4 linked regions of the Homo sapiens genome follow. The protein of the gene in region 1 interacts with the protein of each later gene in a biochemical or structural test. Each region holds a gene or a part of one and is shown on either strand. Other genes may lie near its edges.

The links.
Region 2: the proteins of GOLGA2 (region 1) and USO1 form a complex in vitro, tested with the Homo sapiens proteins (2 studies listed by BioGRID).
Region 3: the proteins of GOLGA2 (region 1) and RAB6A form a complex in vitro, tested with the Homo sapiens proteins (one study listed by BioGRID).
Region 4: the proteins of GOLGA2 (region 1) and RUSC2 form a complex in vitro, tested with the Homo sapiens proteins (one study listed by BioGRID).

What each region holds. Positions count from the first base shown.
Region 1 is NC_000009.12:128,273,008-128,280,527, forward strand, and holds the start of GOLGA2 (golgin subfamily A member 2), read right to left. Parts: upstream 3,001-7,520; 5' UTR 2,970-3,000; coding exon 2,886-2,969; intron 2,490-2,885; coding exon of another isoform or gene 2,401-2,489; exon of another isoform or gene 2,349-2,400; intron 966-2,348; coding exon 843-965; intron 1-842. Other genes in the region: DNA repair protein SWI5 homolog, read left to right, coding at 2,401-2,489, 3,580-3,748. UniProt on the Homo sapiens protein: Peripheral membrane component of the cis-Golgi stack that acts as a membrane skeleton that maintains the structure of the Golgi apparatus, and as a vesicle thether that facilitates vesicle fusion to the Golgi membrane.
Region 2 is NC_000004.12:75,804,575-75,811,603, forward strand, and holds part of USO1 (general vesicular transport factor p115), read left to right. Parts: intron 1-565; coding exon 566-729; intron 730-1,911; coding exon 1,912-1,998; intron 1,999-4,378; coding exon 4,379-4,477; intron 4,478-5,857; coding exon 5,858-5,965; intron 5,966-7,029. UniProt on the Homo sapiens protein: General vesicular transport factor required for intercisternal transport in the Golgi stack; it is required for transcytotic fusion and/or subsequent binding of the vesicles to the target membrane.
Region 3 is NC_000011.10:73,702,053-73,709,081, reverse strand, and holds part of RAB6A (ras-related protein Rab-6A), read left to right. Parts: intron 1-1,568; coding exon 1,569-1,662; intron 1,663-7,029. UniProt on the Homo sapiens protein: The small GTPases Rab are key regulators of intracellular membrane trafficking, from the formation of transport vesicles to their fusion with membranes.
Region 4 is NC_000009.12:35,485,350-35,493,125, forward strand, and holds the start of RUSC2 (AP-4 complex accessory subunit RUSC2), read left to right. Parts: upstream 1-4,761; 5' UTR 4,762-4,823; intron 4,824-5,769; exon of another isoform or gene 5,770-5,907; intron 5,908-6,081; exon of another isoform or gene 6,082-6,278; intron 6,279-7,776. UniProt on the Homo sapiens protein: Associates with the adapter-like complex 4 (AP-4) and may therefore play a role in vesicular trafficking of proteins at the trans-Golgi network.

The sequences.
Region 1 (7,520 bases):
CTGTGCCATCCTTCCAAATGGCCACCTGCTGCCTTGCCAGGGGCAGAAACAAATAGATGGAAAAGTCCCCTGAACGATGCAGTCACACAGAGTGGAGTCACCTGACCAATGCAGCTCTTAATATCCTGTTTGGACCCTTCTCCTTAGGCCCAGGATGTGGGCAATGAATCTAGTAGAACTACAAACCTCCACCTCCATTTTAAAAACCAGACTTCTGAGTAAGGGTTCACTTGAACAAAGGGGGCTCCAGCTAAAAAACAAGTTTGAAAGACACTGATCATATCCAATGTCACCTCACAGAGGAGGAAACTGAGGCCCAGGGGAAGAAGTGGTTTTTCTGTGGTCACGCAGCAAGCTGGTGGCAAAGATGAACTCAAAAGTTAGATCTTCCCCTAATCCTAGCACCTGGGACTCTCCTCACCACACCCTGGGGCCCTTTCAGTGACTCCTAAAGGGATAGCCTGATGGCAAGTAGCTGTTCTCATTGGCCTGGCTTCCCTTTGAGACTGGAGATGAGGAAAATGAAACAGCAACTACCATTTCCTGGGTGTCCTGGGTGTTTAGGACAGCAGGCCCTGTACTAGGGATTAACATAAAAACAACAATAACAAATCTCATTTAAACTTCACAAGTGTAAGTAAAACAATACTTTATAGTTGTGAAAAGAGAGGCCCAAAAAGCTCAAGCAATTTGCCCTAAATCACATCCCTAGCAGATGGACAGGTAGGATACAAACCCAGAACTCTTAATCAGTACCCAACAGTTCTTCCACAATCATAACAATTACCCTCTACTGCCCCTTGGGCCCCCTGTCCCCAGGAGCCTGGCCATCCAAGACTCACATCCTCAGGTGAGTGGCAACCACCAGAAGTGGTTGTCTCAGGGTTACTGCCATTTTTTATTTTCTTCTTCTTTTTCGCTCCTGTAGGAACACCAGGGCTATTCCTCTGCTGATATTCTCTCAACTGTGGAAAAGAAGAGCAATAATATTCATGAGATCTACAAGCCCCCACAGTTACATCCTACTTTACAATTTTTCCAAAATACTCTTATATACCATCTGATTTAATGCCACTAACAACTCCACAAGTTCTTGTCACAATCACTTAGTGACTGAGAGGGATTGATACCATGGCTTAAAAAAGGCAAGAATTGAACTTAAACTCAGTCTTCTGACTCCAAGCTCTGGGGTTTTGCCACAAATCAGCAGCTGCCAGGGGCCAAAACCAGAGGCAGAGGTACTTTTCCACCTCTCATCCCAGAAACGGGATGAGAACACTTAGGGATTGGGTCCTAAGATCAAAAGCTGGTTTCACGCACTAATTACGGTTCCGAGGGGGACTGCGACATCACTACATTCCACTCCACCAAGGAGAATTCAAATATGAGGTGGAGAAGTCAAGCCTGGAGTCCCAGCTACCTGGGAGGCTAAGGCAGGAGGATTACTTAAGGCCAGGAGTTCAAGGTCAGACTGGGCAACACAGTGACACCCCCTCTCTAAAAATAAATATGTATCTTAAAATGTGGGCCGGAACATTAAGTCGGCAGGAACTGTACACTGTGTGGTTTAGAGTCATACATCCTCACACGTTTGGTAATGTTAAGAAATGCACCAATGCCTCTCAAACTTTTACATCAATGTATCCACATGGCAGAAGGCAGCCTTTCTGTTGAACCTGGGAATTTAACAGAAAGAGGACAACCCAAGCCTCATTTCAGAGAAAAGTCTGGTATACTCTTAGAAATTTATGTGACTGTCATCCCTAAGTACATTAATGTTTTTTCTCTCTCAAGAGAATAAAGGGAGACTGATGCTTCAGAAAGATGCCCCGTATTTATCCTGTGGCACTCCAAGTACCCCAGGTTGAGATGATATGAGGAAGATTCAAGCTGTCAAGTTCAGTTTCCCAAGACCTGTTCCACAGAAGATAAGCAGATCTCATTCCAGAGACCACTGAAGGGCACTCTGGTCCCAGAACCATGGAGAATTCGAATATGAGGTGGAGAAGTCAGAAAAAAATGTTAAAGTCTCTCTGGAGAGTAGAAGCCTGGGGGAAAACCAAACCAATCCCGTTCTCACATTGCCACCCAGAGATACTGCCAATGTTTTCAGTTCACGGGTGAAGTGTAGGCTTTTCACACTGTCAATGTCTATGTTAAGGGTGTAAGGCAGCCTGAAACCTCTCCCTCCTAGGTCCCATAGTCCCCAATCCCCTTCCAGCTGGAAATTTATGCTGTGACCAGAGGAACCAGAAGCGGGATGAGAACACTTAGGGGACTGGGTCCTAAGATCAAAGACTGGTCTCGCGCAACTAATTACGGTTCCGAGGGGGATTGTGACGTCACTACATTCCACTCCTAGGGGGAACATCAGCGCGACGTCCAAGTCGCCGCTCCGCGATGGGGGAGGGGACCGCAGGGCCAGGACCCAGGTCCTTGGAGACCCGAGACCAAAGAACCCCGGGAGGTCCGGTTTGGGGCGGCAGGAGGTGAGGGTCGAGTCTGGAGCGGGGGGCCCCGGGAGTCACGGGCCCAAAGTCACTGGCGAGGGCAGGGGCTGAATTGCTGGGGTCCTAGGTCCTTGGAGACGCCAGCCCAAAGAGCCCAGGGAGGTCGGACTTCGGGGGGCAGGAGGTGAGGGCCGAGTCTGGAGCGGGGAGCCCCGGGAGCACCAGCCCAAAGTCACCCGGGGGCGACTGGCGAGGGCGGGGGCTGGGCGGCTGAGGGGGCGGGGCTGGCTGACAAGACTTTGGTGGAGGGAGCCCGGACGCGCCGTGGGGAGCCCAGCCCGGTGTGCCTCAGGAGTGGCAGAGACTCTGGCCATGGTCCTGCCATCGGAGTGGGGCTGGGGCTGGGTCGGGGGGCCGCGACCCGGTGCACTTTACCTTTTTCTTCGCTGCGGCCAATTTGCTCTGTCGGGTTTCTTCCGACATCGCGGGGCGGGGAGGGAGGCGGGGTTGGGGCCACATCAGCGCGATCCCGGCAACCACTGCGGAAGTCAGTCAGCCACCGCGCAGCTGTGCGACGGAGCCAGAGGAGGCGTAACCAGGGCGATACTGGAGCGCAGAATGGGGGCGTGGCCTCAAAGATCAAAGCCCATTGGTCAATGAGAAATATGAAGCGGAAGGGGGCGTGGCTATGCAGCGGCGTGGCCAGAGGGACCTGTGGCGTCACAACAAAAGCTGCGCACGCAACCGCTGTCCCCGCCCACCTCGGGAGAGGGGCGGGGCCGGCTTTCCTTGGGTGCGCGCGCAGCTTTCTGTGCGCCAGTTCACACTCCGGGTCAGAGTTCCTGGCCCGGTGCACCTGAGAGGTCGCTCTCCGACTCCCGCGCTGGACCCTCTTGCGCCATTGAACCCCCTGATCCGGGGGCCTCGGACCCCAGGGCTCAGGAGGTGGGCGAGGAACGGACTCCACAGTTTCTTTCCTGACTCCTCACAGCCCTGCCCCAGACTCTCCCTTCCCAGAAATCACCTCCAAAGACTCCCATCCAGTGCTCCAGACAACCCCCGTCTCAGAACGCCCCCTTCCTAGAGGGTCTCTACCCTGATCCTGAGAGCGTGTCTGCCCCCTTTCCAGATGGATCCAGTCCCTGGCGCTCCTACTTCCCAACTGCTCCTCCTCCCGCATCCCCACAGTACCCCGTCCTCACAGCGGGCTGTGGGTCCAATCAGACTTTCCCCTCGGATTCCTCTCTAGGACTGAACCAAGACTTACCCGAAGTTGCCGCGGGGCCTTCCGATCCCCTGTGAGTATTTCTTCCCCCACACCCCCTTTCCCATCCTCGACCTTCCCTTGTGCGCTCCCGGCCCCACTCCCCATCCCAACAGCAGCCAATCCCCGCTTGGCCCTCTTCCATATCTTCTCCCAGTCGACTGAGAACCGCCAGGTCATTCCCGAATCCCTCCCCTTCCTTTCCTCATGCCCGCCAGTCTTCAAAGAAGTGTTATCCTGTCCTGTCCTAGGCTAACTCCTCTCCCTCCCCATCCTGTCTCCTGGCTCCTCAGATGCCTTTCACTCCAGTCCAGCACCAGCCATCTCTCCTCCTCGCTCTTTTCACCCCTCACCCAGCCCTGCCTTTAAACAAACCCATAGCTCCCCAGTCAGGAAAATGCTTGGCGTTCACCCTGGCCACTCCTTTCGTTGCTAATAGTCTCTCCTCTTCGCTGGCAAGCCACCCCCAAAACGCAGCCTACTCCTTCTCTCATCCCCCAGATGGAGTTGCCACTACAACTACCACCACTCTTAAGGTAGATCGTGAGGGCCGGGTGCAGTGGCTCACACCTGTAATCCCAGCACTTTGGGAGGCTGAGGCGGGCAGATCATTTGAGGTCAGGAGTTCAAGACCAGCCTGCCCAACATGATGAAACCCTGTCTCTACTAAAAATACAAAAAAATCAGCCGAGCGTGGTGGTGCAGGCCTGTAATCCCAACTACTCAGGAGGCTGAGGCAGGAGAATTGCTTGAACCCGGAAGGTGGAGGTTGCAGTAAGCCGAGATTGCACCACTGCACTCCAGCCTGGACAACAGAGCTAGACAAGTCTCAAAAACAAAAAAGAAGTTAGATCGGGAAAGACTTGGTATTTGTTCATTGATTTAGCAACTGCTGCAATGCAGGTGTATGCCAGATAGCCCCCTGCCCTCCAGGAGCCACAGGCAAAAAAATAATTCCAGGACAAGTATGCACATGGTTCTGAGATGGGGAGCCCAGGCTTGGGCTTGCAAAGAGGGCTCTCCAGAGATGGCAGGGTCAGAGGCAGGGCCTGAAGGGCAACTCACAGTGAGCTCAGATGACGATGACGGGGTGGCAGCCATAGTTTGCCAAAAGCACTGGGCTGATTGAGCTTCTCTCTGCAAGTGGGTTGGTATCCACTGTCTTTGACCATGCGGTAACTCACTGCAGATCATGCCTTTCTCATTCATGCTAATTCATTCCTTCTCTTTTTTTTTTTTTTTTTTTTTTGAGACACAGTCGCACTCTGTCGCCCGGGCTGGAGTGCAATGGTGCGATCTGGGCTCACTGTAACCTCTGCCTCCCAGGCCCAACCCATCCTCTTGCCTCAGCGTCCCAAATAGCTGGAACCACAGTTGTGTGCCATGACGCCTGGCTAATTTTTTTGTATTTTCAGTAGAGACAAATTTTCGCCATGTTGCCCAGGCTGGTCTCAAACTCGTGAGCTCAAAGCAACCTGCCCGCCTCGGCCTCCCAAAGTGCTGGGATTACAGGCATGAGCCACCATGCCCAGCTTCCATTCCTTCCATTTTTAAAAACAACGCTCGACCCGGCACAGTGACTCACGCCTATAATCCCAGCACTTTGGGAGGCTAAGGTGAGTGGATCACCTGAGGTCAGGAGTTTGACCAGTCTGCCCAACATGGTGAAGCCCCATCTCTACTAAAAATACAAAAATTAGCTGAGCATAGTGGTACATGCCTGTAATCCCAGCTACTTGGGAGACTGAGGCAGGAGAATCGCTTGAACCCAGGGGGTGGAGGTTGCAGTGAGCCGAGATCACCCTGCACTCCAGCCTGGGCAACAGAGCGAAACTCCATCTCAAAAAAAAAAAAAAGGAGGCTCTATTGAGCATTGTCCCATCAGCTTACTTTACATGCATCATCTTTCCAGTTCCTTCCAGCAACCTTTGAGAAGACGCTTTACTGTCCCCATGTTGAGGTGAGGCCTGTGAGTTCCAGAGAGATGAATATAGCCAGGACGTGGCAGAGCTGGGGGCTTTAAACTGAGAAACTGAGTTGTTTTTGGTTTTTTTTGTTTTTTTTTATTTGAGACGGAATCTTGCTCTGTCGCCCAGGCTGGAATGCAATGACACGATCTTGGCTCACTGCAACCTCTGCCTCCCAGGTTCAAGTGATTCTCCAGCCTCAGCCTCCCTAGTAGCTGGGATTACAGGTGCCCGCCACCATGCCCGGCTAATTTTTATATTTTTAGTAGAGACGGTTTTGCCATGTTGGCCAGGCTGGTCTCAAACTCCTGACCTCAGTGATCCACCCGCCTCAGCCTCCCAAAGTGCTGGGATTACAGGCATGAGCCACCGTGCCTGGGCTTGAACTGAACTCTTAAGCGGTACCTTGGGCTTGCTCCTCTCTGGGCCTATTTGCAGGAGCACCCTCCTGACCTCTCCTGCCTCTTTTTCTGTGCCCGCTCGGCTGGCTCCTTTGCTTCCTGCCACTCCTGAGGTAAATGTGGGCATTTCTGTAGGATCCAGCCCTACGGGGCTTGGTGGGCGTTCTCCCCATGTGCGGAGACAAGAGATTGTAAGAAATAAAGACACAAGACAAAGAGATAAAGAGAAAACCGCTGGGCCCAGGGGACCACTACCACCAAGACGTGGAGACCGGTAGTGGCCCAGAATGGCTGGGCACGCTGATATTTACTGCATACAAAACAAGGGGGGCAGGGTAAGGAAGGTGAGTCGTCCAAGTGATTGATAAGATCAAGCAAGTCACATGATCGTGGGCCAGTGGGCCCTTCCCTTCTAGGTAGCCAAAGCAGAGAGGGAAGGCAGCATACGTCAGCATTTTCTTCTATGCACTTATCAGAAAGATCAAAGACTTTAAGACTTTCACTGTTTCTTCTACCACTATCTACTATGAACTTCAAAGAGAAACCAGGAGTATGGAAGGAACATAAAAGTGGACAAGGAGCGTGACCATTGAAGCACAGCCCCACAGGGAGGGGTTTAGGCCTCCGGATGACTGCGGGCCGGCCTGGATAATATCCAGCCTCCCACAGGAAGCTGGTGGAGCAGAGTGTTTCCTGACTCCTCCAAGGAAAGGAGACTCCCTTTCACGGTCTGCTAGGTAACGGGTGCCTTCCCAGACACTGGCATTACCGCTTGACCAAGGAGCCCTCAAGCGGCCCTTATGCAGGTGTGACAGAGGGCTCACCTCTTGCCTTCTAGGTCACTTCTCACAATGTTCCTTCAGCACCTGACCCTATACTTGCCGGTTATTCTTAGGTTATATTAGTAGTGCAACAAGGAGTAATATTAAAAGCTAATGATTAATAGTGTTTATACTAATGATTGATAATTGTCCATGATCATCTCTATATCTAATTTGTGTTGTGACTATTCTTATTCTATTTTCTTTATTATACTGAAACAGTTTGTGCCTTCAGTCTCTTGCCTCAGCACCTGGGTAATCCTTTGCCCACACATTTCCGGGTGGCTCTGCTCTCCTCTTGCCATTCTCTTTCTACACACCTGCTCCAAGTTCTGACTCCCACTCCCTCAGCCCACCCCAGTGCCCACAACCCTCCTATCTCTCTCCAGCCCTGACCTTTCTTGGGACACCCAGAGCTGCCTGCAGAATCTTTGCCTTCCCACTTGCCAAGTCTGAAATCACACTCAGCCTCCTAACCAGGACCACAAAACCAACTCCTCCAACTGCCCTTGCATCATCAGAGGAACCCCAAGCTCTTGAAGTGTGCTCTGCCTCTTCTCCTTTCTAATAGCACTACTCATGGTTGCATCTGTTCTTTTTAAAAAAAAAAAAAAAAA
Region 2 (7,029 bases), on another chromosome or scaffold:
CAATAGTGTTTCTGATTTAATAAATCTGGGATTAGGTCCAGGGATCAGTAACTAGTATAAGCCCACCAGGTGATTCTAATGTATAGCTGATTAAGAATGACCGCTGTAATCTTTCAGTTTCCTCTTCTGCAAAATGAAGATAGTAATAACATTTGAGAACTAAATGATATAATAAATGAAAAATTTAAGTTGTGCCTGGAAAATGGCAAGAGCTCCACTGCTTTTAAATAGTATTATCCTACGGTGCTTGTGAAGATTTTTTAAAAGGATTTTATTTTCTCATATTCAGTTGACAGAATTGGAATTAAAATTACTGTAATTCTTAATCATAGATCACCAGACCATGCAGTTTAGTCAAGGCTGTGCTGTTTTTTCTCCCAGAAATCTGGAAAATACTATCAGTTCACTATTTTTATCAGTATACCATTCTGCAAAGATGAAATGTGATTGCAAAAGTGCTGCCAAAGTAATTGAATGAAGAAAATTACATATTTGAATCTTCTACTTCAAAAATGAAAAACTGAAGTTTCCCGTTGGCTTTTAAAATGTTATGTCTGTCTAACAGGAAAAGACAATCAGCATCAAGGTTCTTACAGTGAGGGGGCTCAGATGAATGGCATTCAGCCAGAAGAAATTGGTAGATTGCGAGAAGAGATAGAAGAATTAAAACGTAATCAGGAACTTTTACAAAGCCAGCTGACTGAAAAGGACTCTATGATTGAAAATATGGTAAAGTAAATGTTTAAGAAGTTAAAATAAGAGTTCAAGAGTGGTTCTCATTATCCTGCCTTTTTTTTTTTTCCTTGGATCTCTTAAGCCAGAATATCATATGTTAAGATTTTACAGGATGGGCCAGGCACAGTGGCTTACGCCTGTAATCCTAGCACTTTGGGAGGCTGAGGTGGGCGGATCACCTGAGGTCAGGAGTTCAAGACTAGCCTGGCCAATATGGCGAAACCCTGTCTCTACTAAAAATACAAAAATTAGCCGGGCATGGTGGCAGGCACCTGTAGTCCCAGCTACGCAGGAGGCTGAGGCAGGAGAATCTCTTAAACCCAGGAGGTAGAGGTTGCAGTGAGCCGAGATCACCCCACTTCACCTCATTGCCTGTGCGACAGAGGGAGACTTTCCATCTAAAAAAAAAAAAAAAAAGATTTTACAGGATGAGCTTTAGAGTCAAACTGTTTAAACTTCAATGCTTCCTGGCTCATTGAATTTAAGCAATTTAGTTAACCTCTTTAAACTTGTTTCCTGATCTATAAAATGGTAGTGGTAATGTCTAGTTCATTGTTGTGAGATTTAATTTACTCTTCTAATAGATGGAAATTATTTAATAAATGTTTGCTTTTATGCTCTTTCTCCATATGAACGCAGGTAAATGCTTAGATTTAATAAATTGCTCGGTAAAATAAAAATTTTATTTTTTTTTCTTTAGAGACAGAGTCTCGCTCTGTTAGCCCAGTCTGGAGCGCAGTGGCACAATCTCGGCTCACTGCAACCTCCACCTCCCAGGTTCTAGCAGTTCTCCTGCCTCAGCCTCCCGAGTAGCTGGGATTATAGGTGCACGCTGCCACGTCCGGCTAATTTTTTGTATTTTAGTAGAGATAGGGTTTCACCGTGTTGCCCAAGCTGATCTTGCATTCCTGAGCTCAAGCAATCCACTGGCCTTGGCCTCCCAAGGATTACAGGCATGAGCCACCGCACCCAGCCTACAAATGGATTTTTAGCCATGAAAAAGTTGTAGACAATATGTGCTGTGTTGGAATTTTATCTTGGGCATAAAAATTAAAAGGTTGGTGTGAATTTTTTGGTAAGCACATATGATATAGTTTATATGTGTACAGTTCTGTTTTTTTTTCTCATCTCTTTAGACTGAATATATTTTATAGTTTATTTTTGTGCTATTTGCAGAAATCTTCCCAAACATCTGGCACAAATGAACAGTCTTCAGCAATAGTTTCAGCTAGAGATTCTGAACAAGTTGCAGAATTAAAACAGGTAATTTTCCACTTTGATCCAATTCTACTTTGTCATGTTTTAATTATAATAGAATAACAGCCCTATAGTTTCACAAATCTAGAACTATATTAGCAGATGTAAGTAAAATTTAAGTTAAGACAGCCATTTGAAAATCCAGAAGCTGTTTCTATTTATATGGTAATAGTACTTTGCTTTTTATTGTGTTTTTATTTTTCAGAGGTATTCCTTTTAAAAAATCTCAGCATCTCACCCATGTTATTTATAGATTATCAGTGAACTAACAAGGAAAAATTTAAATTTATAACTTGCAAATATGAAAATGTAAAATCTTATGCCTAATTTTAATATACTATGATAATTGCTTGACTAAATGTATGGGGTTTTTAAACTGTTTTGTCTAGAAAATATAGAATTTTAGAATTGGAAAAGAGAAGAAAGGTAAACTTACCTATATCTCAATTAAATGACTCCAGCTAAAAAGCAAAATAAACTTTTTCTGTGGTAATTTATAACATCTAGAAAAGCAAGTTAAACTTTTTTCTACTTGCTTATAGTATTTATAAATTCCTGTTAAACTAGATCATACAGATTTACCTTTATCCAATGAAAAAATTTAAATGTATTGTTCAAGAAAAGAATCAAAAGAGAGAAATGAACTCTGTATACTTACAATTAAATAATGTAGCAATTGGAAGAAAACTCTAGAGTATATTATCCCTAAACAGGTTCTGGGGTTGTTTTTCTTTCCTCCTCTCTTTTCTTCTCTCTCTTTTCTTCTTTCCCTCCTTTCTTTCTTATTATAAAAGAAATGCATACTTTTTTTTTTTTAATCCAAGCAATACTAAAAAATGACCATCCTCACTAACCTAGGACTAACTGTCTTCCTTCTCTCTCCACTAAGCAACTGGCCCTAGTCCACTGACATGGCTGCTTTGAAAGAGAAATGACTGAACATAGAGAAATTTTGTCTTATTTTGATAATGTCCATGTACCTCAGAGTAGATTCTAAATATCTGACCTCTTTTTAAAAAAAGAATCACTTATCATTTGAGGATTTTCAGGTCTCCAATATTTGTTCACAATGTTTTATTTGTGTGGGAAGATTAATATGCTCTTTTGGTTTTATTAAGTGTACCTATACTAGAACTGTATTAAAATTAAAGGGAATTAAGTTACTAATATATAGCCTTAGTTTGTAAATTCTAAGTAAAAATAAGCCATTTAATTATCTTTCCCAGTGAAACTTTAATTAGATATTTTTATAAAAAGAGAATTGCCTTTTAGTTTTTTTACTTTCTCCAGTTTATTTACTTTTATAAACTTTAGATTGTTAAAATATATGTATTTTTTAAGTGACAGTTTTGTTTTTTATAATATATAGTAAAGTACTATATATAGAAAACTGTAACTCATTTTAATAACTAAACAAAATAAATTAGAAAAGCCACAAATGTACATGATAGAAATTTTAAAGAGAACCAAAAGAAAAGAGCCTTTTACTTGCCATTGTCCCACCACTTACTCAGTGTCTCCAGACATTACCAAATGTCCTCGGGGATGGGGGGATATGGGGAGAAATCACTCCTGCTGAGAGCCATTGTTATAATTGCCTTTCTTTTCCTGTACTTTTTTTGGGGGAGGAGAAGGTGAGAAGTTTGGAAATTCAACATTAATAAAAACTTTCAATTAATACCCTGGTTTTCATTATAGTACTACTGCTTTCATCTGTGTTTGGTGGTCCCTAGTCTAAAGATGTCCTGTTTTGCCCAGCCACATAATAAACCTCAAGTCTTCATCCAGGAAAGGAGGAACGGTTGCCTGATGCCTAAGATTGAGACAGGGATCTGATGATCTATTTCTTAAATAGTCTTTTAACCAGGCCTGCAGTTTTTAACCTCATTTTTATCTGTACTTCCAGTGGTATCTAATGATACCAGTTCCTAACCTTTCTGGTAGTTAATGCATTCATTGTAAGTCAGGTACTATCTTAACTTTCTCAGTGGTCATCCTAGCTTTCAGCTTTCTCAGGTGTGCTGATTTAGTTATCACTGTTACTTGCTTTCTCAAAATTCCCCAATTATATTGCTCTCTTCTCTTACTGTTCTTGTTTTTGTAGGTTTCTTCCTCTCTCCCTCCCATCCTTCCTTTCTTTCTTCCTTCTCCCCTCCCTTCCTGTCTTTTATGATTTTTTTTTTTTGCATGGGATTTCAGGAGGGAGCAGAGGTAAATGAATGTGTTGAATTTTCCATCTTGAACCCAAAATTCAAGAATAGTTCTTTAGAGTTAGATTTTAAAAGTAGGAGGTTGTAAATCATTTTTTTAAATGTCTCCCTGTAAATATTTCCTTGATGAATTTAATACCATTTAATGTTATGACTCAACTATTTTTGTCTCTTAGGAACTGGCAACTTTAAAGTCTCAGTTAAACTCACAATCTGTGGAGATCACCAAACTACAGACAGAAAAGCAGGAACTGTTACAGAAAACAGAAGCGTTTGTAAGTATTTTCTCTTTTTTCTCTGGAAGGTAATAAAGACAAGGTTGATGTATTATTTCTTAGCCACAATTAAAAAGAAACAAATTCATCAGATAGCACCTTCTCTTTAGATTACTTACTAGCCGGTATTCTAGTAACATAGGCTTCATGTTCATGGTGACAGTCGTTTTATAGTCAGTCTCACCAGATTAGTTTATTCAGTTACTTAATAGTTTATTTTGCTGGTATTACATTCTATTTCTGTCCCTTCAGTCCAAGCTGGCAGTTTTTCTGCTGTCATAAAATATTCAGAAACCGTTGTTGTTTTCTCCAGAACATTCCTTCTCATACTTTTGCAATATAGGTAGACTGAGAATTTTCCAAATCTTCTAATTCTGATTCTTTTTTGCTTAGCAATTTCTTCTTCAATTTATCTCTCTTCTCTCACATTTAACTTTAAGCAACAAGGAGAAACCAGGCTGCACTCCAACACTTTGCTTAGAAACCTCAGTAAAATATCCAAATTCATTATTTACAAGTTCTGCTGTCCACAAAACACTGCAACACTATTTGGCCAAGTTATTTGCCACTTTATAACAAGGATTGCCTTTCCTCCGATTCCCAGTAACATGTTCCTAGTTTTCATCTGAGACCTCACCAAAAGCACCTTTAACATTCATATTTCTGCCAGCATTCTTCTTCTCACTATGACCATGAAGCTTCTTTCCAACTCCGCTCTTTTCTTTCTGAGCTCTCACCAGAATCACTTAATGTCCATATCTCTAGCAACAGTCTCATCAAGGTAATGCAGGCTTTGTCTACCATGCACCTCTCTTACAGCCTCTACTCATTACACAGTTCCAAAGCTACTTCCACATTTTTAGATATTTGTTGTGTCACTACCCGACTTCCTAGTATTTTAGAAAAAAGACAAGGAAAGACTGAAAAACTGTTATTCAGGAGTGTCTCCTCTAGCACTTGAGAAAAGATTTGCATTTCACTAATAATGATATTTGGCTCAATTTATCTACCTATCTAGGGTGGTAGTATGGACTTATAGGAAATTTATGAAGGAAAGGCTTTGAAAAATATTCTGTGTTTATTAAATGCTGGGTTACAGTTACATTAGAGCTGCCTTGCTGATTACTTTTCTGGGCTTACCTACCTTGAGGCACCTTAGCCCAGCCTTCCTCGTACTCTTATGAGATTTGATGCTCTTCCATGTGGGAACAGCTCATCTGACAGTGGAGAGCACTTTGTTGCACATAAATACATAAGGAATTATATTTTCTGTTAGTGAAAGTAAAATATCAAAATGGCAAAAAAATTAAATAACCCTTTGGGAGTTCATATTGATTGTAATGTTTAAGAGACATCTTTTTTTCCAATTTCTAATTTCAGGCAAAATCAGTTGAGGTACAAGGAGAGACCGAGACTATAATAGCCACCAAAACTACTGATGTAGAAGGAAGACTGTCAGCATTATTACAAGAGACCAAAGAGTTAAAGGTTTGTTTTTGGTGCAACTTTTATTTACTGCATATGATATGAAATGAACTCTAGGAAATTTTATATATCTTTCAAATTCTTAGATTTATGAAGAAAGCTAATGATGTGTAATTTTATCTCACAACATTTTCACTCCTATATTGATGATTTAAGATGGCACAAATGAAAATTTTTTTTGTTTTGGGTTTTTTTGTTTTGTTTTGTTTTTTTGAGATGGAGTTTCGCTCTGTCACCAGACTGGAGTACAGTGGCGCGATCTCGGCTCACCACAACCTCTGCCTCCCAGGTTCAAGCAATTCTCCCGCCTCAACCTACTGAGTAGCTGGGACTACAGGCGTGCACCACCACACCCAGCTAATTTTTGTATTTTTAGTACAGACAGGGTTTCACCACGTTGGCCAGGATGGTCTCCATCTCTTGACCTCGTGATCCACCTGCCTTGGCCTCCCAAAGTGCTGGAATGCTGGAATTACAGGTGTGAGCTGCCGCACCCAGCCACAAATGAAGCTTTTAAAATACTATTTCAAATAATGATAATATGTAAGATAAGCATACATATGCATGTACTATAAAAGTAAAATTTATTGAAAATATTTTTGTTTTCTTTCTTTCTTTTTCTTTTTTTTTTTGAGAGAGAGTCTCAATTTTGTGTTCCAGGCTGGATGGAGTGCAGTGGCATGATCTCAGCTCACTGCAGCCTCCACCTCCCAGATTCAAGCGATTCTCCTGCCTCAGCCTCCTGAGTAGCTGGGATTTCAGGCACCTGCCAACATGCTCAGCTAATTTTTGTACTTTTAGTAGAGACGAGGATTCGCCATGTTGGCCAGGCTGGTCTCAAACTCCTGACCTCAGGTGATCTGCCCGCATTGGCCCCCCCCAAAGTGCTGGGATTACAGGCGTGAGCCACCACACCCGGCCTGTGTTTTCTTTTTAAGATCAACATCTAATCACAATAACAAAACAAGGAGTACAAATTTAGCTAATACACAAGCCACATGTAGGCTTTCCATAAGCCGTGGAACATAGGCACATTAAATCCTGTCAGCATATTATTGTGTGACAGA
Region 3 (7,029 bases), on another chromosome or scaffold:
AGGTCTGCAGATTGGCGGTTTACTCTCAAACAGTTTTTTAAAAGTGTTTCAGAAAATTTATATACACAGAGAGAATGAGAAGATAACACAAGCAAATGTAAAATCTTAACAGTTGGAGTGTTATGTAAGAGAATGTTCTTGTTTTTAGGGAGTGGAGAATTCTAGAATAATAATTTCTTGTAGGCAAGAAGGGAGTGGGATCTAATACATAGATGTAAGTTTTGAGAATAAGGACAACTCTTTCATAGTAATAGGACTAGAGGTAGGATATAAGGGCACACTTGCAAGTAAATGGAAGCTTGTGGAAATTCTCTTCCATTGCCCATTTTCTGTGTTGTAGGAAGCAGGGTTTGTCAGCTGATAGTTTAAATCTAGCTAATTAGAACATTTGTATATTTATGGAATACTTATCTGCCAGCTTAAGCATTAGGAATACCAATATAAATGACATAATCTTGCACTTGAGATCTCACAATTTGAGACATAGTGCTAATTGTAATGCATCACAAAATACCCTGTAAAGGTAATATTAAAGTATTAATATTTTGTATCTAGAGGCTTTACCATACATGTCTTTGACTCACTTACTTCACTTACAGAAATCCACAAAATCGGCTGGGCACGGTGGCTCACGCCTCTAATCCCAGCACTTTGGTAGGCTGAGATGGGTGGATCACCTGAGGTCAGGAGTTTGAGACCAGCCTGGCCAACATGGTGAAACTCTGTCTCTACTAAAAATACAAAAATTATTCAGGTGTGGTGGTGGGCGCCTATAATCCCAGCTGCTCAGGAGGCTGAGGCAGGAGAATCGCTTGAACCCAGGTGTTGGAGGTTGCAGTGAGCTGAGATCGCGCCATTGCACTCCAGCCTGGGTGACAAGAGCAAAACTGTCTCAAAAAAAAGAAAACCACAAAATCTAACCTAAGGAAATGATTTGCAGTGCACAAAATATTAAGCACAGATATTTAGGGCAACAATTTTCATAGTAGTGTAAAATTGGAAAGCAACTTGCATTCTAATAGTTTGGGAATGGTTATATAAATTATAGGAGCAAATTGACAGAAATTGTTTAGCCATAAAAATTGTTTTACACAAAGATTTGAATTTTAAGGCTAAAAGCCTGTGGTCTGATATTAAGGGAAAGAGGCAAGCTATTAAGCGTTTTTTGTTTTGTTTTGTTTTTAGCTTTTTCTTTTTTTGAGACAGGTTCTGTTGCCCAGACTGGAGTGCAGTGATGTGGTGGCCTAATAATGGCCTGCTGCAGCCTCAACATTCCTGGGCTCGAGCATCCTCAAGCTATTAAGTTTGTAAAAGTAAAAAAATTACAGGATGAGCCCAGTCAAGTGAAAGCAAATCAGTAACAAAAAAAAGTCTTTAAAAAAATGTTAAGTATACACACACAGAAACACACAAATTTCAAGAGTGTGGCAGATTAATGAATTTTTAAACTAATGTGACCTGTATAACCAGTCCTTATATCAAGGAAAGTTATTTTCAGAGCTTTCTTTATAATCTTTATAATACTGCCTCATGTCTCAAAAGTAAGAAGTTTGTTTGTTTCTTTACAGGCAAGTGTCAATTGAGGAGGGAGAGAGGAAAGCCAAAGAGCTGAATGTTATGTTTATTGAAACTAGTGCAAAAGCTGGATACAATGTAAAGCAGGTAAGTTGAGTTGAGGTTACCAAATTGAAAAAATATGAAATAATTGTGTGAGTATTCTATTCTCTGGTGTATAGGTTTCCTTCCACCTGGCAAGAGCAGGCCTTACAAACTAGCAGTATATTTTCAAACAGTGAAAAATATAAATGTGGCATAGTTTTTGGAAAAAGAGAAAAGACTTGCAAACTTCAGATCGTGGATAGAACTACTGCAAAGTGGTAAATCTACCATATTGTCACTACATTCCTACTACATTGCTTTAAAGGTAAATTTTCTTTTCTTTTTTTTTTTTTTTTTCTTTTTTGAGATGGAGTTTCGCTCTTGTTGCCGAGGCTTGAATGCAATGGCGTGATCTCGGCTCACTGCAACCTCCACCTCCTGGGTTCAAGCAGCTCTCCTGCCTCAGCCTCTCGGGTAGCTGGGATTACTGGCATGCGCCACCATGCCCAGCTAATTTTGTATTTTTAGTAGAGATGGGGTTTTTTTCATGTTGGTCAGGCTGGTCTCAAACTCCTGACCTCAGGTGATCCGCCTGCCTTGGCCTCCCAAAGTGCTGGGACAGGTGTGAGCCACCATGCCCGGCCGGTAAATTTTATTTCAGAGTTTGATGCCAAGACTGAGATAAATGAAAGCAAGTATTTACTGTCAGTAATGGTGTTCCACTTCTTGTTGTAAAAGTAAATTCTGGTTACTTTATCCTTAATAAAATGCTGGTGTTTGAACAGTGTTTACAACAGGTCTTTTTGGGGGAGGGCAGGAAAATATAGGGAGATGTCACATTATCAAGCCATTTTCTACAAGATAGGTCAGCCAGAGACTCACATGCTTAACTCTTCAAGGCTGTATATCATGTAGGGTAGTGGTCCCAGATTTATAAGATTTATGGACCAATAATTTTTTTTTTTTTTTGAGATGGAGTCTTGCTCTGTCGCCCAGGCTGGAGTGCAGTGGCGCGATCTCGGCTCACTGCAAGCTTCACCTCCCAGGTTCACGCCATTCTCCTACCTCAGCCTCCCGAGTAGCTGGGACTACAGGTGCCTGCATCACGCCTGGCTAATGTCTTGTATTTTTAGTAGAGACGGGGTTTCACTGTGTTAGCCAGGATGGTCTCAATCTCCTGACCTCGTGATCTGCCTGCCTCAGCCTCCCAAAGTGCTGGGATTACAGGTGTGAGCCACCACGCCCGGCCTAGACCAATAATTTTCTTAATTGAGGGTGATCAACAGAGGGTAACAGTAACATCATTTAAATAGTTAAAGCTTTAGGAAGAAGTCTTTATATTGTTTTTATATTTTTTAATTTATTTCCCTCCATGCCTTGAATCATAATGTAAGTAATATTGAATGATCACTGATTCTTTCCTCATTAACATATTGTTTCATGGTCATGGTTTGATACCTGTGCTCATGCTTTTGTTTCCTTTGCTTAGAATGTTCATTTTTTTTCCCTTTCCTAATTGTACTCCTTATAAGTTTCAGTTTAGATGTCAGCTCCTCAGCAACATTTTCTCTGACATTTCCCATCCTACCTCCTGTCTGTGACACCTGATTCTCTTATGTGTTTTCACCGACCTGATCTCAGCAAAAACAGTATCATTACTTACCATAGTATATTGAAAATCTCTCTCTCTCTCTCTCTCTCTCTCTCTCTCTCTCATCGGAATTATATATTCCCAGAACCTAGCAATGTGTATGGAACGTAGTAAGTGATACGTAACTGAACCCATAGGAGCCACAGACAGTTAAATAATTTGTGTAATACCATTATATTAGCCATATGCCACTATTCTAAGACAAAGCAGTGGGTAGCTTCATCTGGCTTTCTCTTTTCTATTTCTTATATATATTTTCTCTTATATTTATTTATTTTTTTATTTGAGACAGGGTCTTGCTGTGTCAGCCAGGCTGAGTGCAGTGGTGCAATCTCGGCTCACTGCAACCTCTGCCTCCAGGGTTCAAGTGATTGTCATGCCTCACACTCCCCAGTAGCTGGGATTACAGGTGTGCAGCACCATTCCCGGCTAATTTTTGTACTTTTAGTAAAGACAGGGTTTCACCTTGTTGGCCAGGCTTGACTCAAACTCCTGGCCTTAAGTGATCTGCCTGCCTCTGTCTCCCAGAGTGCTGGAATTACAGGTGTGAGCCACCACACCCAGCTGGCTTTCTCTTTTAGAGACATTTTGATAAGGGTGTGAGCTAGTTGCTTATATATCCTGGTACAGGCTGTCCTTTTCCTGGTTAATAGCTAAAGAAGGCATTGCTGTAGTCCCCTAGCCCTGACCCTAAGTAGTCTCATAGGTTTAGAAACTCTAGAATTATCAGATAGCATACAGTAAGCACCACTGATGTCTAGTATCTTCATAATGTTTGATTGCTTCCAATTTTATTTTTATTATTTTTGTTATTTATTTATTTATTATTTATTTTCGAGATGGAGTCTCGCTCTGTCATCGAGGCTGGAGTGCAGTGGCGTGATCTCGGCTCACTGCAAGCTCCGCCTCCCAGGTTCACGCCATTCTCCTGCCTCAGCCTCCCGAGCAGCTGGGACTACAGGCGCCCACCACCACGCCTGGCTAATTTTTTGTATTTTTAGTAGATAGGGGGTTTCACCGTGTTCACCAGGATGGTCTCGATCTCCTGACCTCGTGATCTGCCCACCTCGGCCTCCCAAAGTGCTGGGATTACAGGTGTGAGCCACTGCACCCAGACTATTTTTATTTTTTATTTATTTATTTTTTTTGAGATGGAGTCTCACTCTGTCGCCAGGCTGGAGTGCAGTGGCACGATCTCAGCTCACTGCAACCTCTGCCTCCTGGGTTGAAGTGATTCTCCTGCCGCAGCCTCCCGAGTAGCTGGGACTACAGTCGAGCGCCACCATGCCCAGCTAATTTTTTTGTATTTTTAGTAGAGACGGAGTTTCACTATGTTGGTCAGGATGGTCTCGATCTCCTGACCTCGTGATCTGCCTGCCTCGGTCTCCCAAATTGCTGGAATTACAGGTGTGAGCCACCATGCCTGGCCCTTCTTATTTTTATTTTTTTGAGTTGTGGTCTTGCTCTGTTGCCCAGGCTGGAGTGCAGTGGCATGATCACAGCTCATTGCAGCCTTGACCTCTCAGGCTCAAGTGATTCTCCCACCTCAGCCTCCAGAATAGCTGGGACTACAGGCACACACCACCATGCCCAGCTAATTTTTAATTTTTTTCCAGAGAATAGGTTCTTGCCATGTTGCCCAGGCTAGTCTTGAACTCCTAGACTCAGGTGATCCTCCCAACTTGGCCTCGAAGATTTCGAGATTATAGGTATGAGCCCCTCTGCCTGGTCGATTTTTAGTAAATTTATAGCATTGTACAACTATTACCATAATCTGATGTTAGAAATTTTTTTTTTTTTTTTGAGATGGAGTCTCCCTCTGTTGCCCAGGCTGGAGTGCAGTGGCACCACCTCGGCTCACTGCAACCTTGCCTCCCGGGTTCAAGCAGTTCTCCTGCCTCAGCCTCCCAAATAGCTGGGACTACAGGCGCATGCCACCACGCCCAGCCAATTTTTGTATTTTTATATGATCCTGACCTCAAGATCCATCCATCTCGGCCTCCCAAAGTGCTGGGTATACAGGCGTGAGCCACGGCGCCCAGCCCTTCTTACTTTTAATTTAGATTGTTTTTGTTTTTGTTTTGGGTTTTTTTTAGACAGTCTTGCTCTGTTGCCCAGGCTGGAGTGAGTGGCACAATCTTGGCTCACTGCAACCTCCGCCTCCCTGGTTCAAGTGATTCTCATGCCTCAGCCTCCTGCCTAGCTGGGATTATAAGTGCATGCCACTGTGTCTAGCTAATTTTTATATTTTTTGTAGAGACAGGGTTTTGCCACGTTGGCCAGGCTGGTCTGAAACTCCTGGCCTTAGGTGATACGCCCACCTCAGCCTTTCAAAGTGCTGAGATTACAGGCGTGAGCCACTGTATCTGGCCAGAAATTTTTTAATTGTCAGTTTATTCTGCCTCCCCACTAAACAACAAACTCCATAAATGTTCATTGAATGAATGATAATATACTTTATTTTTTTTTAGCAGATTCTTAGAGCTGCATTGTTTTGCCATAAAAATAAGATTTATTTCATGTCCTTGGTTCTGTCTTAAGAATTTTCTTAGCTAGACTGAACAAGCCCTAGAGAAGCCAGGTTACTTGGAGAATTGCCCTTCATTTGCTGTTTTGACTACACCTTAGACATAGATACATGTTCATCTTCCGTTTCTTTGCATTCACCTGAACCCATGTTGAATTTTTTTTTTCCAATTTTTTTTAATTAGGCCAGGCATGGTTGCTCATGCCTATAATCCCAGCACTTTCGGAGGCTGAGGCAGGCGGATCACTTGAGGTCAGGAGTTCTACTAAAAAATTAAAAAATTAGCTGGATGTGGTCTCATACACCTGTAATCCCAGCTACTCGGGAGTCTGAGGCAAGAGAATCACTTGAACCCAGGAGGCGGAGATTGCAGTGAGCCAAAATCACACCACTGCACTCCAGCCTGGGTGACAGAGCGAGACTCTGTCTCAAGAAAAAAAAAAATAATAATATATATAAAATTGAGATAAACATTTATGTACAGTGAAATGTATACATCTTAAATTGACTATTAGATGAGTTTTGGTAAATGTATTTACAGGTATAATGACCACAGCAATGAAGATATGGAAATATGTTGTTAATTTCCCAATGTTTAGGGACATTTCTAGATAATCTTAATTGTTACTGGCTTCTAATTTAATTCTGTTATAGTCAGAGAATACACTCTGTAATATTTCAGTCATTTGTAATTTATTGAGACAAGTTTTATGGCCTATCATATGGTCTATCTTATTGAATGTTCTTATATGTACTGGAAAAAGAATTTTTTTTACAGTTATCAGGTATACTAGTTAACATGTTTGACAGCATTCTCAAACCTTATATAGCCTGGCTGGGCACAGCGGCTCATGCCCATAATCCCAGCACTTCAGGAGGTGGATGTGGGAGGATCACTTGAGGCCAGGAGTTCAAAACCATCCTGGTCAACATAGTGAAACCCTGTCTCTACAAAAGTAGAAAAATTTTTTTGAAAATTAGCTGAGCATGGTGGCATGCACCTGTAGTTCCAGCTACTCAGGAGACTGAGGCAGAGGATTGCTTGAGCCCAGGAGTTCAAGGCTGCAGTGAGGCATGATTGCGCCACTGCATTCCAGCCTAAGCAACAGAACAAGACTGTCTCAATAAACAAAAAAACACCTTATATATCCTTACTAGTTTTTTGTCCAGTTCTGTCGATAACTGAGAAGGGGATATTGAAACCTATAACAACAACGATGTATTGTTCGCTTTGCTGATTAGTTCTGTCAGC
Region 4 (7,776 bases), about 93 Mb from region 1:
TGTGATCTCGGCTCACTGCAACCTCCACCTCCCAGGTTCAAGCAGTTCTCCTGCCTCAGAGAGGCAAGTAGCTGGGATTACAGGCATGTGCCACCATGCCTGGCTAATTTTGTATTTTTAGTAGAGGTGGGCTTTTCACCATGTTGGTCAGGCTGGTTTCGAACTCCTGACCTCAGGTGATCCACCCACCTTTGCCTCCCAAAGTTCTGGGATTACAGGCATGACCCACCGTGCCCAGCCTCTTTGTTTGTTTGTTTTTGAGATGGAGTTACGCTCTTGTTACCCAGGCTGGAGTGCAATGGTGCAATCTGAGCTCACTGCAACCTCCACCTCCCGGGTTCAAGCGATTCTCCTGCCTCAACCTCCTGAGTAGCTGGGATTACAGGCACCTGCCAGCATGCCCAACTAATTTTTGTATTTTTAGTAGAGACGGGGTTTCACCATGTTGGCCAGGCTGATCTTGAACTCCTGATCTGAGGTGATGTGCCTGCCTTGGCCTCCCAAAGTGCTGGGATTACAGGTGTGAGACACCGCACCCGGCCAGCATCATGCTTTCTTATGTCTCTGTGTTTTCGTATATTCTTTGATTTGCAAGTGTCTGGAAAACTTAAGAAATACTTTGAAATGGGTGTCTTTTTAATGGAATGTTGGGTGCTGTTAAGAATCTTTGGGAATTATTTGATTATATTAGCGGTGAGAGCCTTTGATTTCCTTTGACTAGGTTCCTATTTTACAAGTAAGCTATTTTCTAACTCGTTGGAGTTAGAAGTTAACTTCAGAATACTGACAATAAATAATACAAAAGATTTTCTGCCCATAACAGTGCAAACGATTCCTGTTCTGGGTGATGCAAATAAATTTTGTCCATTAGAGAAAAGACATTTCTAAGTCAAATCTTCATTTGAACTGGTTTTAGTATCTTACTGGTTCCCTCATTAGTTAAATAAAAAATTTGAAATATGTTCATTGTATATTTGTATAAGGCTCTGCCAGGCTCAGTGGCTCATGTCTGTAATCCCAGCACTTTAAGAGGTGGAGGCGGGTGGATTGCTTGAGCTCAGGAGTTCAAGACCAGCCTGGGTAACATGGCAAAACCCTGTCTCTACCAAAAATGCAAAAAATATCTTTAGTCCCAGCTACTCTGGAGGCTGAGGTGGGAGGATCGCTGAAGCCCGGAAGTCGAGGCTGCAGTGAGCCATGATCGCACCACTGCACTCCAGCCTGGGTAACAGAGAACCTGTCTCAAAAAATAAAAAATAAAAATACTTGCATAAGGCTCATTATTTTACCTTTTTGAAAGTTATTCTTTAACACAAACAACAGGAAGTAACCCACACTCGCTGAAGCCAAAAATGAGATTCCTATGAATGGATAGAAGGATGCATCATGATCCTGGGGAAGGAATCCTGCTGGGCCTCAGAAAGAAGTGGAACCAGCTGCTGGAAGGTCCCAAGAACCTAGGGAGCAGTCTTTTTGTGTCTAGACTTGCTTCTCTGTGTGCAACTGATTGATCTTCTTTCTCAGCAAACTGGTTTTCAATGCTGCTCAGGCCAAATGGGCAAGTAGAAGATGACTACTGCATAGCTCCCAAATTACCCTTAAGTCCAATTTAAGTCTGAGCAGAGATGTAGCTCTTTGTCTCCCAATTCCAAATTCTTAGAGAAGTAATTCTAATTGGCCTGGTTTGGCTTAATTCCCCAACCCAGACTATTTAACTGGGGGATCACACTGTGCAAACATGCAATTCCTCATTGGTTCCCCACTGGCAATGCTAGCTCTCTCCATGTCACCCTTATTTAAGCCCTTAGAACTTTATTTCTAACATTCATATTTGATCTTGTCATTCCTGCCTCTGCAATAAAGCCCTTCAGTATCTCTCCCAACTCCTTAGTAGTCATAGGCGTTTCATCACCAAACCCTGACCAGCTCTCCTCAGCTGTCTCCGTTGCCTCCCACACTTCTCAATCACATTGGTCATTTTGCCCCTCAGTTCTTTTGCACATGCCAATTCTCTCTTTACCTCCCACTCATTCTTCAAAATTCAGCTCACACCACTTCTGTGAAGCCTGAAGACAAGCTACATATCCTGACATTTATCTGCTTCCTTGACTGTGACCCCAGTCTCTAACTCTTTCAGTGAGTATGGAACCTAGAACAGAGTCTTCTATTTTTTTTTTTGAGACAGAGTCTTGCTCTGTTGCCCAGGCTGGAGTGCAATGGCGCAATCTCAGCTCACTGCAACCTCCGCCTCCCAGGTTCAAGTGATTCTCCTTCCTCAGCCTCCCGAGTAGCTGGGATTACAGGCATGCGCCACCACACCCGGCTGATTTTTGTATTTTGAGTAGAGACGGGGTTTTACCATGCTAGTGGTCTCAAACTCCTGACCTCAGGTGATCCGCCCGCCTCAGCCTCCCAAAGTGCTGGGATTACAGGCGTGAGCCACCGCGTCTAGCCTAAGAGTCTTCTCAATGGGTGATATGGTTTTGTTAGTGGTGGAAGAGGTCTGAGTTACCCCAAGTTACCTGCAGCCTATCCTTATGGGTCTGTAGCAACTTTAGTCCTTGCTTCATCAGAAGAAAGAATTCGACTGTGGGGCAGAAAGCAGAAAAAGAGACCAAGGCAAGTTCCAGAGTAGGAATGGAAGTTTATTTAAAAAGGCCTTAGAACAGGAAAGAAAGGAAGGTGCGCTTGGAAGAAACCCAAGCGGGCACGTGAAGGTTAAAGAGAGAAGGTCAAGTGCCTAACCAAGATCCTAGGACTTTTACAGGCTGGCCTCTTTCCCATGATTCTTCCCTTAGAGTGGGCTTCCCGAATGCGCAGTGCTTTCCTTCCCGTTTTCCGGTGGAGGGTGCCCCCAGGAGATCATACGTCACCATTTTTGTCTCTTAACACGCATGCCCAGAAAGTTGCTTCTCCCTGAGGCCTGCATTCAATTAGCATTTTGATGTTAACATGTGTGGACCATCAGGAAATGGCCTCTCCCTGGCCCAGCCGAATTATCCTTTTTAAAGAAGCAATGAGGTAATTATGGAACTGTCACTGGTAGAGGGTCTGACTGCAAGTTGTCCAGGTTCTTGGCGTTTTGAACAAAGAATTGGACAAAACGCCCAGCAAAGCAAAGAAAGAATGAAGGAACAAAAGAAGGAAAGCAGGGATGTATTGAAAACGAAAGCACACTCCACAGTGTGGGAGCAGCCGGAGCAGCGGCTCAAGGGCCAGGAAACAGAATCTTCTTGGGTCCAAATACCCCCTAGAAGTTACCCGCCACTTCATGCTCACCTCATGTAAATGAATTCGTAGCCTGCAATCAGTCTGATTGGTTGCAGAAAGCAGCCAAGCAGAGGCTGAAGTGAAGTTACAAAGGTCGCACACCTGTGCAAACATCTGATTGGTTGCAAGAAGCAACCAATCAGAGGCTAGGGTGAAGTTACAAAGTTATACTTCTATGCAAAGTTAGACTCGGCTGCAGTCAGTCTAATTGGTTGCAGATAGCCAATTTCCCATCTGCTGGGCAGAAAAGTTGGGTGGGGGGTTTGTTACTTAGGTGTGGAAAGTTAGGGTTTTCCTTTCAATTTAGTTCCAGGAAGTTGGCATGAACCAGTCTTAGGTTCCCTGCCTCCAGTCCCTATTCTCCTGCCTCAGAACCATCACCCAACATCCCTAGTGGGTAGCAGGGGAGAACCCTCTCCTGCCCCGCTCATGCCTAACTACCTGTAACAGTTTGGCTGTGTCCCCACCCAAAATCTCATCTTGAATTGTAATTCCCATAATCCCCCTGTGTCAAGGGCGGGAACAGGTGGAGGTAATTGGATGATGGGGCTGGTTTCCCCTGCGCCCTTCTCGTGACAGTGAGTGAGTCCCACAAGATCTGATGATTTTATAAGCGTCTGGCATTTCCCTTGCCTGCACTCACTCTGTCCTGCCACCCTGCGAAAAGGATGGCTACTTCTTTGCCTTTTGCCATGATTATAAGCTTCCTGAGGCCTCGCCAACAATGCGGAACTGTGAGTCAGACCTCTTTCCTTCATAGTATTTCTTCATAGCAGTGTCAGAACGGACTAATACAGTGGGTTTCCCATAACATTTGCAGGACTGCCTGCCCCATCCCCCTCTGGCTGTAAACAGCAGGAGTCACACACAGGCATCTTCCATGTCCCCCACACATCCGGCCCTGAAGGGCAGGGGGCGCATGGGTTCTACGTTTCATCAGGGGTTCCGAACCCTGGCTATGCACTGGAGGCCAACCCCACCTCACCCCACCCCACTCCACCCCAGTGGTTCTGAGTCGGTCCAGTGTGAGGTCAGCCCTCCTTCTGTTGTTTGGTTAGTTTCCACACTAGGTTCTACTGGGAAGCCAGCGTTGAGAACCGCCGCCTCAGGCGAAGCTGGGACTCACACCCACCGGCCCTGGAGGCCCGCGGAAGGTTTCCCTGGGTTCCAGCACCCGGGAGCCGCGCGTCGCCAGGCACCACCCCGCGGGGGCGGGCGCGGGCCGCAGAAGATTGGGCCACGGCGGAAGCCTCTCCGCTCCCTTAGCGGGAAAGCTCTGCGCGTGACTCGGCTGCGCCCATCGCTGCGGGAGCCGGGGAGGGGGCGAGCACCTTAGGCCGGGCGGACCGAACCAACGCGCCGCCCGGAGGGGCGGCCTGAGGGCAACCCAGATCGGACCATCGCGCCACGCCGACAGGGGCCGGCCTTTCCAACCCGCCCGGAGGGAGGGGCCGCCGGCGCCTCTAGCCTGCAACGCGACCCCTGGAGGGCGAGACACGCCGCCGCCGCCGCCGCCGCCGGCGCGGAAGGACGAGGCTGAGGCGAGAAACGAGGTAGGAACGCCTCTCCGGAGGCGGGCAGGGTCCCACAGACCCACTGCCCCGCGTTCCAAGGTCTCCCTTAGGGGAGGGCCTGTCTTCCCACCTATGTGCCTTCAGCGCCTGCCCTTCCCTTCAGCCCTTCCCCCTCGGCTGCACCCGCCCTCTGCGTCCGCCCCGACCCCCTGGGCAGACCTCGTCCCCAGCCCTTCTGACCCTTGGCCTTCTCCTGACCCTTCAGCTCTGCGTCCACCGGACCTTCAAACACCCAGCACCCACCGTCCCTTTGGGCGCCACCCCAGATGCATCCCCAACCGTCTCCTCAAACTGCCCCCTTGGGGACACCCTCCCCCCACAAAACGACTCGCGCCCAGTAGTCACCTTGGTACCCCAAGTCCCTGTGACGGCTTTGGGGAAGCGTGGCCGCCCGGCACCCAGGCCGGCGACTGCAGCGGGGGCCTCCCTACTGCCAGTTCCCGGCCGGGTCCTCTGCTCCCTCCACCCTTTTAGCCCCTGCCTCCCTTTATTATCCGCCCGGCGCCGGCGTTGCTTCAGTCTCTGTCTCTCTGTCATCCAGTTTTACCTGGAGAAAACCTTTGGCTTGGCAGTAACCGTCCCCTACTACTGCACTCACTTGCCGCGAAGGGCACGGTGATCCTGTTGCCCACAGTTGGCTGTGGCCCTCCAGGCCGGCCCTGCGGACACGGGGAACTGTCCTGGGGGCAAGGACGGTACACTACTCATCTTTGTATCCCCGGTCCCCAGCACGGTGCCTGGCACATGGTAGTGTTGCTGGTGGAGGGTCTTCACTACCAGTTGTCCTTTGCGTTTTGAACAAGTAATTGAGCAGCGGAGGAATGAAACGCAGGAACAAGTAGATCTGAGTCAGGCAAGGATTACCACTATGTGAACAGTGTCCGTGATAAAGAACACAGGCCTTAAAAAAAAAAAAAAGGCGGAATTTACAAAGGACAAAGGGCCTGAAACCTGTTTTTATTTATTCCTAGGTGGGTGACCTGAGCAGATTTAGTTTCCTGGGGGTTTGGGTTCCACGCGGAAGCAGGTGGTATCGCTGAGGGATGAAACAATGGCTGGAAAGCTGTAGGAGTTGATAAGGTAGAAAGTAGTTACCTAATTAGTAGTGGCATTATTGTAACTGGGGCTCAAAGTATTAGCAAATAAAAGTAGTGACTGGATTTTCTTAGCCGGCTCCTTAGATATTAAGCAGTGGTGGATGGCTTAATGGAAGGAAGAGCAGATCCAAACAGTATACCTGGTATTCTGTTAGTTATGCCCGTCCTGCTGTATGGCCAGCCACTGTTTCTCTTCTGTTTTGAGCCAGGTTAGGATCCCTCTGATTTCTGTGCTGGTATTTAAGATTCCTTTTTGAAGCCACAGTTGCCTTAACTGGAGGCTGGACATGTTCTCATTCATCCATTGCTAGTTTTGATGTATCCTTTTCCGCTTTCTGTCTCCCACCCTCTTACATGTCTTTATAAAGTCTTGGATCAGGCCAGGCACAGTGGCTCAGCCTGTAATCCCGGCACTTTGGGAGGCCCAGGTGGGCGGATCACTAGAGGTCAGAAGTTCAAGATCAGCCTGGCCAACATGGTGAAACCCCATCTCTACTAAAAATACAAAAATTACCGGGCATGGTGGTGTGCACATGTAGTCCCAGCAACTCAGGAGGCTGAAGTCCCAGCAACTCAGGAGGCTGAGGCAGGAGAACCCCTTGAACCTGGGAGGCAGATGTTGCAGTGAGCTGAGATCATGCCACTGCACTCCAGCCTGGGTGACAGAGCAATGCTCTGTCTCAAAATAAAGCCTTGGATCATAGAAACCCAGTGTGGGGAGGGGCTCCTGATCTGGATGGATTAAGCAATACAATTTTTTTTTAACAGTATCTTTTTAATGGCCTTTTCTACTTTTTCCTGTCTAGGCTTCCTGTTAAGACCTCAGTTACCCCAGAACACCCTGGGTTATTTTTCTCCTCACCTCCAATACTTCAGTGTTGCCAGATAAAACGCAGAGTGCCCAGTTAAATTTGAATTTCAAATAAACAACAGGGAGTCCTGTATTTTTACTTGCTAAATCTGGCAAGTTCATGGGAGGGCTTATGTGTTCTATTTTTCTCTCTGGGCTTATCTGCAAATTTAGGATAATAACTCACCCTTTTCTTCCTGTTACTCATACACAATGACTATGCACCCTGCTAAAAGTCACTTGACTGAAGAGATGGTTCACTTCATGTTAGGGTAAGGGCAGGCTATCTAGAAATGGTCTTGATTGATCAGTGTTGAAGTTACCCAGGAAAAAAAAAAAACACCCATTCAGACATTGGCATTTAATATAATTTTTGTCAAATGAGTCCGTCATACGAAACGAGAGCATCATTTTGAGTAGCCAGATGTCAACATTGCTCTGATAGAGCTAGGTGATGGGGTAGAAGGGAATCCTAACAACAACAAAATAACTCAGCAGAACCTGTGCTGTACCATATTTACTCTTTATGGTGGTAATATATATATATATAACATAGAATTTACCATTGTAATAATTCTTAAGTGGCATTAAATATATTCACATTATTGTACAACCATTACTGATAACAATCTCCAGAACTTTTTTTCATCTTCCCAGACTGAAACTCTGTACCAGTAAGATGCTAACTCCCCATTTCTCCCTACTCCGCCCCAGGCAACCACCATTCTACTTTCTATCTTTGAATTTGACTACTGGGGGTACCTCATATAAGTGGAATCATGCACTATTTGTCTCTTTGTGACTGGTTTATTTCGGTTAGCATAATGCCTTTTTTTGTTTTTTGGGTTTTTTTTTAACTTTTATTTTAGGTTCAGGGGTACATATGAGGGTTTGTTATATAGATAAACTCATTTCACAGGGGTTTGTTGTACAGATTATTTCATCACCCAGGTATTAAACCTGGTACCCAATAGTTATCTTTTCT